Regions from separate parts of the Homo sapiens genome. Here region 1 is linked to region 2. A link means that fine-mapping ties the variant in region 2 to the plasma level of a protein whose gene starts in the linked region. Region 2 holds a variant in brackets. A gene starts in the other region. All regions are shown on their forward strands. Region 1 holds the start of ASPN (asporin). Region 2 overlaps SRGN (serglycin).

The links. A credible set is the group of variants that fine-mapping cannot tell apart. PIP is the posterior inclusion probability: the model's chance that the variant is causal. Protein levels are from antibody-based Olink assays in UK Biobank. Linkage for the fine-mapping came from a reference panel and not from the study's own genotypes, which makes the PIPs less certain.
Region 1: it holds the start of ASPN, and the variant in region 2 is the best candidate, but not a certain one, in a credible set for the plasma level of the ASPN protein (UK Biobank, PIP 0.71).

Annotation. Positions count from the first base shown.
Region 1 is chr9:92,479,036-92,487,035 of GRCh38, forward strand. It overlaps ASPN (asporin), which reads right to left and starts at 3,471. Exons shown (of 8, transcript NM_017680.6): 1 at 3,258-3,471. The region is part of intron 5 of CENPP (centromere protein P); the gene reads left to right.
Region 2 is chr10:69,092,442-69,100,441 of GRCh38, forward strand. SRGN (serglycin) reads left to right here. Exons shown (of 3, transcript NM_002727.4): 2 at 4,643-4,790. Among named protein-coding and RNA genes, the nearest start is that of SRGN, 8.3 kb to the left of the region's middle. The variant C/G (reference allele first, on the strand shown) is at 4,766.

The DNA.
Region 1 (8,000 bases), not on the chromosome of region 2:
GTGCCACCGTCAAGAGAGGCTTCCCCAGTACTGAGCTGAGGTTCGAGATGAGGAACTGGATCAGGTATGAGGAGCAGAACTGAGAGTTGAGAGGAGAAGGAGAAGGCACACAGGGCAGGGAAGGCAGGGAGCAGAACAGTAGTGGTCCTGCTTTTTTCCACATCCCTGCCTCAGGGCTGCTGACCAGTCCCCCAGTGGCATCAGGAGAAGCATCAGCCGGGGCCCCTTCCTTTGTCTCTCCTCTTTCTGAGACTGATAAGTTACAGGAGACCCTCCCTGCCTTTAATCAAAACTGCGGTAAAATTAAAATATGAAATGGAGACTTCTGCCTGCAAGTTTTAGGCAGTAGCATTATCTTTAGCTGTTGGGAAGCATTCCAGTTGCTGAGCAGTGGAGGCAGCCACTTTTATATAGTAGTTAGGCCCTTTCCTGGAGAATAAGAGATGAAGACCTTTGAAACAGGAGTTCCTCCTGGTGGTGAAGGTTCCAGAACATTCTGGAACAGGGAGCATATCCACCCTGCTTGAATAGCTCCAGGGAGAGGATACTACCTCAAGGCAGCATCTTCCACAGTTGTCCATCCATGGCTGTTAGGAAAGTCTTTATATGGAAACTCAAAAATGCCTTCTGGAAAATTCATTTCTCTCTGCTAGTTCTGTCTTCTGTTAGCCTTTTACAATTAATCTAATCTTTTGCATTTGTGTATCCTGGTTGCTTGCAAAGAAAAAAGTCAGGCCAACCTTGATACCATGAGGAATTCATTATTTACACTCTTTACCTGAGTCTCTTGCTGGGTCTCTTCCACTGCTTTGTTAATAAGTACAATCAAGTATAGGTCCTAAACCTCCCCCAGTTCAGTGTGCAACTGTTTACCAATAGGAAAATAATGGAATGTCTAGGAGAGAACCCTAGATAGCAGTATTTTTTTCTTATTATTCAGAAAGAATGTAGAGAATATTATATGTCATTTAAAATGATATGACTTTTGGCTGTTTTATTTTGAGTTTATTAATGAGGTACAACCTCTGTTTTATTAGTTTTGGCAGTATTCAGGTTACTCTATTTTTAAACCCTTTAAAAATATTAAATCTTCTTCTCAGGAATACTCAATATTTCCCTGATTTAGACCAGTTTTGCCAGTGTTTTCCACTCATGGAAAGCTTTGGATTTTGGTTTCAAGTCTCTCTTAATCAGAGTAGTGTTTGGAGTATTCTTCCAGTGCTACTGCTATTACTAATAAATCATAGTAGCCTAGAGCTAAGAGAGGTCTTTGAGACTTTCCCCCCATGGCCCTCTTTTACTGAGAAAAAGCAGAGGCAGTGAGCGTCCAGAACTGGCTGGAGGTGGTGGAGCTGAGGGCTGGCTTCCTCACTGCTTGTTGGTTGTGCTTTGCACTAGACTGCATGTCCTCCTAAATGGATTTTAATCTCATAGTTACTTCCAGACAGTAAACAGACTTTCCTCTGGAAAAGCCTAGGTAAGGAGGTTTGGCCAAGTTCTTAAAAGAGTTCATAACATATGGACTGGAAATAAAGCTTAAGAAGCACATAAGCTTTCTTGTTTCCATTTAACTGGTCTACAAACTTAGAAAGTTTATCTAAGTGAAATGGTATTTCCTCTCAGACACTATTATTAGGTAAATAAGTCACTGTGCTTTTAAATCCCATGTTTAAAGGCCCGCTTGGCAACTTTTCCCCTGGGTTTAAACATGCCTATCAGTTCACAGGTACCAGTAGCAGATTTCAGCATATAAATGTGATATAACATACTCCATATATTTCACCGAAGGAATCCAAACCAAATTCAGATGTAATCAAGGCATAGTCTTGTAAGCTAACAAATGAGTTAAAAGTCCAACATGCATTTGGAAACTTATTCACAGTACCATTTGTTCATGGATACTGATAAAGATAGCACTTTCCTTAAAAAGTAGTTAATTTTACCTTAGAAGTATAACTAGCATTCTGACAAAGCATTCTAGCTGTTCTTCCTTTTATACTAATTTTGCCCTTCATTAATTTCTCCACATGTCTAGCAATCAAGCTACTGTCTTAAAAAACAAAATCTACTGCCTCTCCATTTTTATGATGTTTCCCACAGTGCCTCAAGACTTGTGCTTGTAAAGTTAATTGTTTTTGTCTCAAACCTCAGATCAGTTATCAGAATATTTGTTTTTAATTGAGTAGTTAGTTGTAACAGAAGACTATATATCCTCTGTTCTTTCCACTACTACACTATACTCCTTAATGCCAAAAAACAAACTAAAAACATCAGGATCCTTTTATGTGTGTGGGCTTGTGCTCGATTTTTCTTTCTTTTTTCATTTCTTTCTTTTAACAGCTTGATTCTTGGATTTAAACAACTTTATTTTTAGGGAAATACAACCCCCTCAGGTTCTTTATGACTCAGTCCCTACACCATGTGGCCACTGTTTCCTGGGTGCCACACCTCTGAATAGATTAACATGAAAGAATGCTGTGCGCTATTTAGATTACTAGGGAGTAGAATATTGAATACATTGCTTAAATTTTTTAATCTAAAATTTAATCAGAAATTTACTTTGGGAGTAGACAAAGGAAATCTTTGAAAGTGTTAAATTCTGACTGTATACATGCTGTGAAAATTTCCTAATCTTTCATATTGAATATAGTGCTAGCTAAACTATTGCTGATAAGTATTCTTTCTTGGAATTGAATAGATTTCCATTTGAACTTTTCAGTGCCATTTCATTATAATAAGGAAGACATTTATCAAGGAAAAAAATGAATATTCAAATGTATAAGTAAAATTGACATTTCAGTAATTCACACATTTTAAATACACATTAGAAAATATTTTAAATATTGAAAAATATATTTACTGTTTCATTTAATATAGCTGTGATATCCCCAAACTTCATGATCATTATTATAGCAATGTTATTTTCCTAGATAAACATACAAGATGTTTATTTAGATGACTTTTAAAATCAATCATGTTAACATTTATGGTAAGGCATAATGACAGGTTTTCACTTAGCTGAAAAAAAAAGTCACATAATTATATTTAAAATACATTCATTATAGGTAAGACATAAAACTAGAATAATTTTAGGTACAAATTTAGGTTTGTATTTAAATGCTGATTTTTAAGAAATTATAGAGATAAACTTTGGACTTTATCCTATTATTTATAAGCATTTATTAATAACATTAATGTCTCCTTAGTATTGACTGTAAAGTATACATCGATACTTGTAAGATAGACATGAAACATACCTGTCAGAAGAGAGTAGTCCTCCTAAAAGTAGAAGTTATCCACCATGTACTACTTATCTATAATGTAAATGTTCTCAGACACTGTGTAAGAAGAAAAGATGAGGAGGTATTACATTTAAAAGAAAAAAAACACCCTTCAACACAGTCCTGGTGTGGCTGCACCCTGGGTGATACTGGAATAAACTGCTCCCACAGATTAGTCCATGTTAGTACTGAGGAGCAAGATTAAAACTTGTTACTGCTCATGTGTTTTCCATCACTGTTTGTATCGTAGCCAAGACTTCTAGCTAAACTCTAGACGTCTACTGGAAGATTCTGAAGAAGAAAAAAAAAGAAAGTTTAATAATGCATGGCAACTGGCCATTGAAAGTGCAGTCGGAGTCATTCAAGAAATACCTAGTTTTAAAAATATTAGATTCTTAAGTGAATGAATATTTGTAAATTACAATTTCAAAAATTACTCAACCTGTATAGACTAATAAAATATTTATCAATCTGAATAAAGGATACCAACATTACTGAAGTATATACCCAAACTTCAGATGTACCTGAGAAAGAACCATACTTTTTTTTTCTTCTAATGACTGTAGCTATTGCATTATGCATACTTCTCCAGACTTTTTTTTTTTTTTAAGCTTTTAGCACTGCTATAGCATGTCAGGGAAACTATGGATGAGGCTCCATGAACTGCTCCCTGGACTCAACATATGTGATATAACACAGACACACATGCATGTCCAAGTAACACCCTCTTAGGATGCATACAACTTTCCCTTTTCAAGAGAATATTAGCTATGGCCTCACTGACATTTAGGGAGACTTAGAGCAGGGAAGATGCTATTTCCTGAAAATAAATCATTATTTGTACCCCCTTTCCACTCATCCCCAAGAGACTGCCCAATTCTACATCAACTAAGACCTTCAAGAGAGGACAGTTTTCTTTTTTTTTTTTTTGAGACGGAGTCTCACTCTGTCACCCAGGCTGGAGTGCGGTGGCGCAATCTTGGCTTACTGCAAGCTCTGCCTCCCAGGTTCACGCCATTCTCCTGCCTCAGCCTCCCGAGTAGCTGGGACTGCAGGCGCCCGCCACCACGCCTGGCTAATTTTTTGGTTTTTTAATAGAGACAGTGTTTCATTGTGTTAGCCAGGATGGTCTCGATCTCCTGACCTCGTGATCTGCCCGCCTCGGCCTCCCAAAGTGCTGGGATTACAGGCATGAGCCACCATGGCCGGCCTGAGAGGACAGTTTTCTAACCCTAGTGGCAAGGACTTACTGTTGTAAGTGACCCCAATGGTTCTTCCCAACTGTTGTATAGATTTGGAGGCCAGCAAAGAGCTTTTCCAGTGGGTTAGAAGACCTGTTCTCTACTGTCATCAAGAGTCTGACCATCGTTTGTTCCCTCTCTCCAGAGAAATGGCACACATTGTGTTAAGCAAGGCAGCTACAGTCCTAAAGAATACATGTGCCTCAGATGTGCATAGCAGCTGGCTATGTGTTCATCCTCCCCTCACTTAAATAAAGTACTCCTCCTTGGACCTCTAGGCTGACAGTTCCAGGCAGCTCGGTAGTCCCATTAGTGGCCCTCTGTAACTCAGGCCCCATCCTAGCCCTGCAGCACCTTAGGGAATGACGGCCCTCCTGTTTGGTTTAGAATGCTCATATTCTCATTTATTCAAGTATATTTCAGTTGCAAATGTATCTGTTAACTGGATGAATTGGGAACATAATGAAAATATGAACTGGATTTTTAAAATCTTTGTATCCAGAGCATCTAGTGTTTGCCTAAATTCCTTCAGAACACAGTCATAAACAGGAAGCCCTTGGGTCAAATTCAGTTTGTCCTGCACAATGTTTTGTTTCTGAACTGTTTATTGAAGTGTATGTTACCAAAAAAAAACATATCATAATGGTACAACTCAATTAATTTTTACAAAATGACCCCAATCAAGAAATCCCAGCCTCACACTCCATTCTCATACATCCAGAATCCCTCCTCTTACTCCTCAAGTCACAGCCTGAGTTCAGCACCATAGGTTATTTCCTGAACTTTATATAAATGGAATCATACTGTGCATTCTCTTTTGCATCTGGCTTTTTTCATTCAGTGACATGCTTTTGAGATCCATTCGTGTCATTGTGATACACAGTAGTTCATTCTTGTCACTGTATAGTATTCTCATACATGAATAAGCCACAAATTGTTTATATATTCAACTAGATTAATTACCTTTTGGAGAGGTACTATGAACGTTCCTCAGTCTGTCATTTGGGGGTCATGTGTATGTATTTTTGTTAGGTGAAATTGCTGTATTTAAAAATAAGATTTCAACTTCTCTTTAAAAATTAGGCTTTCCCAGTCTGTGATTTCTGGTTTTGCATGGCAACTGTTGTCTCTGGGACTTGTGTTTTTCTCTTCTATACTCACAGGATGTTGTCCACGTCACCCACCCAAGGCACTCCTCAGTCGAGTTGCCTGCATGGCCTTTCTGGGTGCAGTTTTGCCTCCCATATCTAGAGAGTTGAGAGGCAGTTCCTGTAAGATTGTGTTTCTAAAGATATGTTACAGCTACTTTTCCTTCTCCCCACTGTGAGACTTAAGCTAGTCTTCCTCTGATATTTTGCTTCGATCTTTGGTCAGAGGGCCTAGGGAAAGAAATAGGCCCTGGAATAAGATGCTGGGGTTAGGGGTAGTATATTTGGCTTATTCACTCTGTTCTGCAGATAATGTGGTAAAGGTGCAGGCCTCAGGCACAACCCTCCACCATCTTGGGGCTGTGACATGGAAAGCTTTGCCTCACATTTGCCAGAGATGGTGCAGCAGGCACGAACGTGCCATCTGGGAAGAAACTGGAGTTTATCTCCACCCTTTTCCAGGTTATCATTCCAAATGAAACAGTGTACCTCTTCTTCCCTCAAGTATTGTGAAGAGAAAAATCTTCCATTTTTGTTTCCTAAAGGGGTCCTATGGAGGGGACCTAGTTCTTTTCTCCATGCTTTTTAAATTGTTTTATTTTTGCCTCATTGAGCCTTAGTCTAAATATTGAAGAACTAGTTGCATTATAACAGTATATTTAGGAATCACAAGTAATTTACATGTTGCAAACACAAAGATAAATTACAAAATTGAAAAAGTAATATTCTCAGTACTGACAGTTTATGAATAAAAATATTGATTGCCATAAAAGGAACTTTAATGCAAATTTATTTTCCTTTGGCCTTATATATGCTAACCATCGTGAAAATAAAAATAAATTGCCTAATCTAAGCTCTCGTATGATTTCTCACACCCTTTCTAGAACTTCTCCTGGTCTAGACATGGACAACAGTGGTCAAAGTCCAAACACAAATAAGAACAGGGGAGGACCTTGGAAACTGTCTCATGCAAATAAAAGATTGATTGATTGACAGAGTCTCACTCTGTCACCCATGCTGGAGTGCAGTGGTACAATCATACCTCAAACTCCTGGGCTAAAGCAATCCTCCCATCTCGGCCCCCCAAAGTGCTGAGATTACAGGTGGGAACCACCTGCACACAGCCCAAATGAAAAGGTTTGATAGGTGAGGCAGGAGCTATAGGAGCAGCATGTGTCAGGAGTATATTGTGGGGCACACACACACCTGCCAAAAAAGTAGGCAGTTTGAATTTTCTGATGTTCTTTTGCCAGTCTGTGGTGTCCTTCACATTCTAAATGAATTGGAATAGATTGTACAATGTTCTTTTATAGTAGTAGCTACAAGAAAGGCCGTCCACCAATCCATTCATTCAACAAATAGTGTAAGTGCTATGGAGAGAAGCAGGATAGGGGTGGGGGTGTCAAGGGTGCCCTCCCTGTCAGGTGACAGTCACAAGACCTGAGGGCTGTGAGGGAGTTAGCCGTGCCATGCAAACACCCACTTTAAGAATGTTCTAGGCCACTGAATTCTAGGATGTAAATATGCATAACATAGGGTTTTTTGTATAGTAGATGCTTAAAAAAGCTTCTGTGAAGGGATAAGTGATTAAGATTTCATGAGTTTTAATGTTCAAGTGTCCCTCATGGTGGACTAGGCACTTCGGTTTCTAATGAACTTATTTTATACTGTAGGTTGTGACCCAGGGGCAGTATTCAACATGCAGATTGTTTGGAGCATATAGTATTTTTAAAAACCAGGACATTTGATATCGAAGTCCAAATTTACAATGTATTTGGAAAAATATGAGCTGGAAAAACTGACCCTGATGTCCTATGTAGCAGCAATTTGCTGAGCACGTAGGCCCTCCATGGTTCTCTGCTGCCCTGACCTCCTCTTACCCTCTCCTCACAGCTCTTCCTGTTGCAGGGACTGGCTTCTGCTGTGTCATGTGGCTGAGCTCACTCTGTCATCCTACTTGAAGTTTCTAGTTCTGAAAAATGAATTATAATAAATTGTCACTAAATGTTCATTCCGTTGAATTTATGAAAAATGAAGGACTTATACAATTTTGTTTATTATATTTTGCATGTGTCAATTTTTTTTTTTTTTTTTGAGACGGAGTCTTGCTCTGTCACCCAGGCTGGAGGGCAGTGGCACAATCTCAGCTCACTGCAACCTCCACCTCCTGGGTTTAAGCAATTCTCCTGCCTCAGCCTCCTGAGTAGCTGGGATTACAGGTGCAGGCCACCACGCCTGGCTAATTTTTGTATTTTTAGCAGAGATGGGGTTTTGCCATGTTGGCCAGGCTGGTCTGGAGCTCCTGACCTCAGGTGATCTGCTCGCCTCGG
Region 2 (8,000 bases):
AATAGCTTTGTTGAGATAGTGTTCACATACCATACAGTTCACCCATTAAAAGTGTTCAATTCAGTGATTAGGCCAGGTGTGGTGGCTCATGCCTGTAATCCCAGCATTTTGGGAGGCCAAGGCAAGTGGATCACTTGAGGTCAAGAGTTTGAGACTAGCCTGGCCAACATGGTGAGAACTTGTCTCTACTAAAAATACAAAAATTAACTGGGCATGGTGGTGTGCACCTGTAATTCCAGCTACTTGGGAGGCTGAGGCAGGAGAATCACTTGAACCTGGGAGGTGGAGGTTGCAGTGAGCTGAGATTGCACCACTGCACTCCAGCCTGGATGACGGAGCAAGACTCTGTCTCCAAAAAAAAAAAAAAAAAAGTGTTCAATGTTTTTTAGTATATTCACAGAGTCATGCAACCATCACTATAATTGCTTCTAGAACATTTTCATCATCCCCCAAAAGAAAGCCTTCGTTACGAATTTTAATTAGCTGAGATTCTGAACTCTGGGGGAATTTTGTATTCTAGAAATATTTTTTACTAATATGCTACAGTTGTATTTGTCATGCTGGTGAAAAGATGTGGTCTTTCACCTGGATGCTTTCTCATTAAGCATTATTTTTCTGTTTAGCTTCCTGTGTGAGCAAACATTTTCTCAGCTTGATACTCAGTGCATCAGCGGCTTGCAGAAGAGACTGCCTAGGCCTGCTCTGTCCAGTACGGTAGCCACAAGTCACTTGTGGCTACTGAACACTTGAAATGTGGCAAGGCCAAATTGGGACAGGCTGTGAATGCAAAATATACAAGATTTGGAACCCTTAGTATGAAGAAAAGAATGCAAAATATCCCAGTAATAACTTTTACATTGATGATATGTTAAAGGACAATATTTGAATATGTTAGGTTAAATAAAATTAATTTCACCTGTTTCTTTTTACTTTTAAAAATATGGCCGCTGGAACATTTAAAACTCCCTATGTGGTTTGCTTTGTGTTTCTATTGGACAAAGTTGGTCTAGACAGTACAAGGTGTGAAGACACCGCCCTCTGCTGGAGAAGATGCTGGATTTTTATTTCACCTACAGGAAGAGACGTCTAAGTAGCAATTAGATGCTAAACTAATGCTGCCTCAGGAAAGAATCAAAAGAGAAAGAGTGAAACCAGGCCGGGCGCGGTGGCTCACGCCTATAATCTCAGCACTTTGGGAGGCCAAGGCGAGGGGATCACGAGGTCAGGAGATCGAGACCTTCCTGGCTAACCCCGTCTCTATTAAAACTACAAAAAATTAGCCGGGCATGGTGGCACGTGCCTGTAATTCCAGCTAGTCGGGAGGCTGAGGCAGGAGAATAGCTTAAACCCAGGTGGCGGAGGGTGCAGTGAGCTGAGATGTGCCACAGCACTCCAGCCTGGGCAACAGAGCCAGACTCTATCTCAAAATAAGGAAAAATAAAAAAGAAAAGAAAGAAAGTCCATAAATTGAGACTCCTAGAGATACTAAATGGTAGAATGGGAATTTGAATTTAAATTTATAAGATGTTCACTCTCGGAGATCATAGGTCATTGTTGTCCTCCTCCTTTTCATGACAGGAACTAGCAATGAAGAGCTCTGACTATGTGCTAGGTACTACTCTGAGAACCTAACATTTGTATCTCCTTATTAACTCTATTACTGCCCCATCCTACAGATGAGAAAATTGAGGCACAGGAAGTTTAAGTTGGCCAAGATCACACAGCCAGTAAGGGGCAGACATTGAAAGGTCATTTTGCCTGCCTTATCCCCAGCCTCCAGGCAGTGGCAGAGTTAGCTCATTTTGGACAAACAGCTCTCCCAGACCAGACATTGTAAGCTATACTCAGGAATCATAGGAAAGATTATGATAGAATAATATATAGTTACAAAGAAAAGAAAGAAAATCCAATGGGAGAATATTTACTGTTTTCTATATTAAAGTGTTTAATGTTTATGTTTTTAGAGGAATATTGTTTATTATAGCAATTTAGAAAACAAAATGAGAAAAAAAATCACCAAAGATTCTACCTCCAGTTATTTTTGTGTATTTCCTTCCATTTTTCCCCCCATGTCTGTTTATATAATTGAAACTATTATTCATGCAAAGAGGTATTCTGATTTTCTCAGTTATTTTTATTTATTTTTAATTTTGTAAATAAACTTTTTTCTTCTGAGACAGTCTCGCTGTGTCACCCAGGCTGAAGTGCAGCCGTGCAATCTTGGCTCACTGTGACCTCCCAGTCTCAAGCAATCTTCCTGCCTCAGCCTCCTAAGTAGCTGGGACTGCAGATGTGTGCTACCACATCCAGCTAATTTTTAAAATCTTTTTTCTCTTTTTTGGTAGAAATGGGAGTCTCTCTATGTTGCCCAGCCTGTATTGAACTCCTGGGCTCAAGTGATCCTCCCACCTCAGTCTCCCAAAGTGCTGGGATTTCAGGCATGAGCTACCACACCCAACCTAATTTTTATTTTTATTTTATTAAAAAAAAAAGTTTTTGCCTACCCGCCTCTCACCCTCTCACTCATTTTTAAGTATAGGTTTTTCTACAATGCCACATTGTCTTTTCCATAAAAAGTACTTTCGGCCGGGTGTGGTGGCTCACACCTGTAATCCCAGCACTTTGGGAGACTGAGGCGGGTGGATCACCTGAGGTCAGGAGTTCGAGACCAGCCTGGCCAACATGGTGAAACCCCATCCCTACTAAAAATACAAAAATTAGCTGGATATGATTGTGGGCACCTGTCATCCCAGCTACTCGGGAGGCTGAGGCAGGAGAATCGCTTGAACCTGGGAGGCAGAGGTTGCAGTGAGCCGAGATTGTGCCACTGCATCCCAGCCAGGGCAACAGAGCGAGACTTCATCTCAAAAAAAAAAAAAAAAAAGTACTTTTCTTCATTTGGTTAGTATTCTCTTATGAGTTGATGCCTTGTAATTTATCTGAATGTTTTCCATTATTTTGTGGTGAGCTTTAAAACTACCCTTCCTGACTTTCAAGAATCCTAGACATGCTCCTTCTTGCTAGGTAATTATTAGTTGCACTCATTAGAATAAAGTATATGCTTGGAGTGGGGAGGAGATGAACTTTTTGAAGGGCGGTGAAGTATTTCTCACCACCAGGCCTTTGTCTTTGCTAAACTGAGGAAGGAAGATTTTATTTCATTAGCTAACAAAGAACCTCCTATATAGGCCGGGCATGGTGGCTCACGCCTGTAATCCTCACATTTTCAGAGGCCAAGGTGGGTGGATTGCCTGAGCTCAGGAGTTTGAGACCAGCTTGGGCAACATGGCAAAACCCCATCTCTACTAAAAATACTAAAAATTAGCTGGGCGTGGTGGTGAGTGCCTGTAATCCCAGTTACTCCAGAGGGTGAGGCAGAAAAATTGCTTGAACCCGGGAGGTGGAGGTTGCCATGAGCCGAGATCGTGACAGTGCACTCCAGCCTGGGCGACACAGCAAGACTCTCTCTCAATAAAATAAAATAAAATAAATACATAAATAAATCTCCTATATAACCTCATAATATCAGATTTGGAGCCTTTTCCATAGAAATGAAATTCAGAAGAAGCTGAGACTCAGATATTCCAAGCTGCCTGGTGCTCTGTGAATAGAGGAGACTTGTTCTTGTGAAATCTGAGTGCAAAGACACAGGACAAATTGTTATCTACTTTTCATTCCTAAGGATACTGTATGGCCCTAAAACACAAGAACTAGAATTCTGTGATACCACGGGTACTCCACAGTGTGTTCCTTCCCCTTTCTGAACCTGATTTGACTCATCTCTATGAAAAGATGTGGGCTTTGGGGTCAGATGTGGGTTGGAATCCTAGCGCCTGTGTGGCTGCAATTTTCTTTTGTGTAAAATTGAGATAATAGTACAAAAGTAACAACAGTTAATATTATCAAGTGCTTACTGTGTGCCTGGCACTGTGTTAAATTCTCTAAGTGTATTTTCTCATTTAATTTTTGTGATAGGCTTATGACACTATTAGTATCTTCATATTACAGTGAGGGTTCAGAGAAGTTAAGGTTCCATAACTAGTCAGCAGACCTGGGACTTCACTCCAGGCAGCTGATTCCAAAGCCTATTCTAACTTTAAACTGCTACTTTTTGGAGTGTTGTAAGAAGGACAATTTATATAAAATGTTGGCACATAGTGGGTGCTGCTGTTATATGAATGGGCACAAAATCTGTCTACATTTTGCCTTTTACCAAATTTAGAATCTATTTAGTTAAAACCTTCTTAGGGCGGGTGGGGTGCAGTTGCTCATTCCTGTAATCTCAGCACACTGGGAGGCCAAGGCAGGAGGACTGCTTGAGCCCAGGTGTTTGAGACCAGCCTGGGCACATAGTGAGACCCCCATCTCTCCAAAAAACAAACAAACAAACAAAAACAAAACAAAACTAGCTGGGCGTTGTGGTGCCCCTGTATTCCCAGCTACTCAAGAGGCTGGGGTGGGAGAATGGCTTGAGCCCAGGAGTTCAAGGTTGCAGTGAGCTATGATCACAGTACTGCACTCCAGCTTGGGCAGCCGACTGAGACCCTGTCTCGAAAAAAAAATAAAAATAAAAACTTCTTAGGACAGAGTGATTAGAAGCTGTGTAGTAGATACTTAGTAACAATGTGGGTTCCTCGGGCAGGTTATCCTACGCGGAGAGCCAGGTACCAATGGGTGCGCTGCAATCCAGACAGTAATTCTGCAAACTGCCTTGAAGAAAAAGGACCAATGTTCGAACTACTTCCAGGTGAATCCAACAAGATCC[C/G]CCGTCTGAGGACTGACCTTTTTCCGTAAGTGGACTTTTCTCTAATTAATTAATTAATTACTTATTTATTTGAGACGGAGTTTCACTTTTCTTGCCCAGGCTGGAGTGCAATGGCGCAATCTTAGCTCACTGCAACCTCCGCCTCCTGGGTTCAAGCGATTCTCCTGCTTCAGCCTCTGGAGCAGCTGGGATTTCAGGCGCCTGCCACCATGCCCAGCTAATTTTTTTTTTTTTTTTTGAGACGGAGTCTCAGTCTGTCGCTCAGGCTGGAGTGCAGTGGCGCAATCTCGGCTCACTGCAAGCTCCACCTCCTGGGTTCACGCCATTCTCCCGCCTCAGCCTCCCGAGTAGCTGGGACTACAGGCACCCGCCACCACGCCCGGCTAATTTTTTTGTATTTTTAGTAGAGACGGGGTTTCACCTTATTAGCCAGGATGGTCTCGATCTCCTGACCTAGTGATCCGCCCGCCTTGACCTCCCAAAATGCTGGGATTACAGGCGTGAGCCACTGCGCCTGGCCTAATTTTTTGTATTATTAGTAGAGACGGGCTTTCATCATCTTGGCCAGGCTGGTCTCAAACTCCTGACCTCAGGTGATCCACCCACCTTGGCCTCCCAAAGTGTTGGGATTACAAGCATGAGCCACTGTACCCGGCCTTTTCTCTAATTTTAAAGTGTCTGTAATTTCACAACCTCTTGGCACAGATGTGGGAGTGTTTTTCTTCAAGCTGTCCAGAGTGTTTTGCTTCGAGCTCTTGCTTTGGTAGTTTGGCTCTTACTCTGCAGTACATGGTAAAAGTGTACTGTATATACTGGCATATGACATGTGCGAGTATACATGATTCACCTATGTTTTTGAAATTTTTTTTGTGGATGGTAGAGAGGAGCATTGAGGACTTTTCATCAACAGGTATTGAAAATGATTGAACATTGTTTTATTTGTGTAAACAGAACACACTATATATAAAAATCCAATAATTAACTGAATGGATAAGCAAAATGTGGTATAAGCATACAAAGGAATATTATTGGGTCATAAAAAGAATGAAGTACTGATACATGCTACAACATAGATAAACCTTGGAAACATTATGCAGAGTGAAGGAAGGCCAGACACCAAAAGCCACATATTGTATGATTCCATTTAGATGAAATGTCCAGAATAGGCAAATCCCTAGAGGCAGAAAGTAGATTAGTGGGTTACAGGGGCTGGGGAAAGGGAGGAATAAGGAGTGACTGCTAATGGGTATGAGGGTTTTTTTTGGAGGAGGTGATTAAAATGTTCTTCTGCCAGGTGTGGTGGCTCATGCCTGTAATCCCAGCACTTTGGGAGGCCGAGGCGGGAGGATTGTTTGAGCCCAGGAGTTTGAGGCCAGCCTGGGCAACATAGTGAGACCCTATCTCTATTTCAAATACATTTTTTATATTAAAAAAATGTTCTTCAAGTAGTTGGTAATTATTTTTAAAAATGGCCAGGTGCAGAGGCTCATGCCTGTAATCCCAGCACCTTGGGAGGCTGAGGTGGGAGGATCCCTTGAGCCCAGGAGGTTTGGGACCAGCCTGGGCCATACAGCAAGACCCTGTCTCTACAAAAAATACAAAAATTAGCTAGGCATAGTGATGTGCACCTGTGGTCCCAGCTACTCGGGAGGCTGAGGTAGGAGAATCTCTTGAGCCTATGTTGAGCCTGCAGTGAACCCTATTTATGCCATTGCACTCCAGCCTAGGCAACAGAGTAAGACTCTGTCTCAAAAAAAGAAAAAAAAAATTAGGGAAAGGAAGAATAATTAGCCAAGACTTGTAAAACAAAAATCAAATCTCTTCTTTTGATCACATAAAACTTGCTTTAAACTTGCAAAAAAGACCTGATATAAATTCATAAGTAACAAAAAATTGAATTATATTAGAAACCATTAATTCAATGAATACTAAAGCTATGTAGGATGTAGCAAAATATACATATTAAGAAAAGGATTATCATAAAAGTTTTAATCTCCAGGCTCAAACCTAGAAAATCACTCTCCTCAAAGCCAGGGTTAATCATCATGCTCCAAACCAGGTACATTTCACATCACTTTGGGATCCTGGCAACTTTCTCTTTTGTTTTTTTTTTTTTTTGAGACAGGGTCTCCTCTGTCACCCAGGATGGAGTGCAGTGGTGTGATCATAGCTCACTGCAGCCTCGAACTCCTCAAGTGATCTTCCTGCCTCAGCCTCCCAAGTAGCGGGACCACAGGCACACAGCACCATGCCCATCTAATTAAAAAAATTTTTTTTTGTAGAGACAGGGGTCTCTGTACATTTCCCAGGCTGGTCATGTACTCCTAAACTCAAGCAGTCCTCCCACCTCAGCCTCCCAAAGTGCCGGAATTACAGTCATGAGCCACCATTCCCAGCGCTGGTGACTTTCTCCATCACTGGTGACTTTCTCCATCACTGGTATTCACTGCATTAGTGATGACATCATTACAATCTTCAATATGCAACTTTGTAGTCCTACTCTTGCATTCTTACTTTAAAGCCTCAGCATTAAGTTTGAATGTAATATTACAGCATCCTTCATTACTTTAAATCATTGGTTTCAATAGTAATTCATTTAAATCTAAAATGTTAGGCTGCAGTGGCTCATGCCTGTAATCCCCCCAGTTTGGGAGACTGAGGTGGGAGAATCACTTGAGGCCAAGAATTTGAGACCAGCCTGGGCAACACGGCAAGACCCCATCTCTAAAAATTAGTGGCCCGGCGCTGTGCCTCACGCCTGTAATCCCAACACTTTGGGAGGCCGAGGCGGATAGCTTGAGGTCAGGAGTTCAAGATCAGCCTGGCCAACATGGCGGAAACCCATTTCTACTAAAAATACAAAAATTAGCTGGGCATGGTGGCACGCCTGTAATCCCAGCTATTGAGAGGCCGAGGCAGGCAGACTGGGAGGCCAAGGCAGGCAGATTGCTTTGAGACCTGCCTGGGTAACATGGAGAAATCCTGTCTCTACAGAAAAATACAAAAATTAGCCAAGCATGGAGAAACCTCGTCTCTATAGAAAGACACAAAAACTAGCCATGCATGCCTGTGGTCCAGCTACTCGAAAGGCTGAGGTGGGAGGATTGCTTGATCCTGAGAGGTCAAGGCTGAAGTGAGCCATGGTGTGGCACTGCACTCCAGCCAGGGTGACAGACTAAAACCTTGTCTCAAAATAAATAAACACATTTAAAATAAATAAATACAATTAAAACTA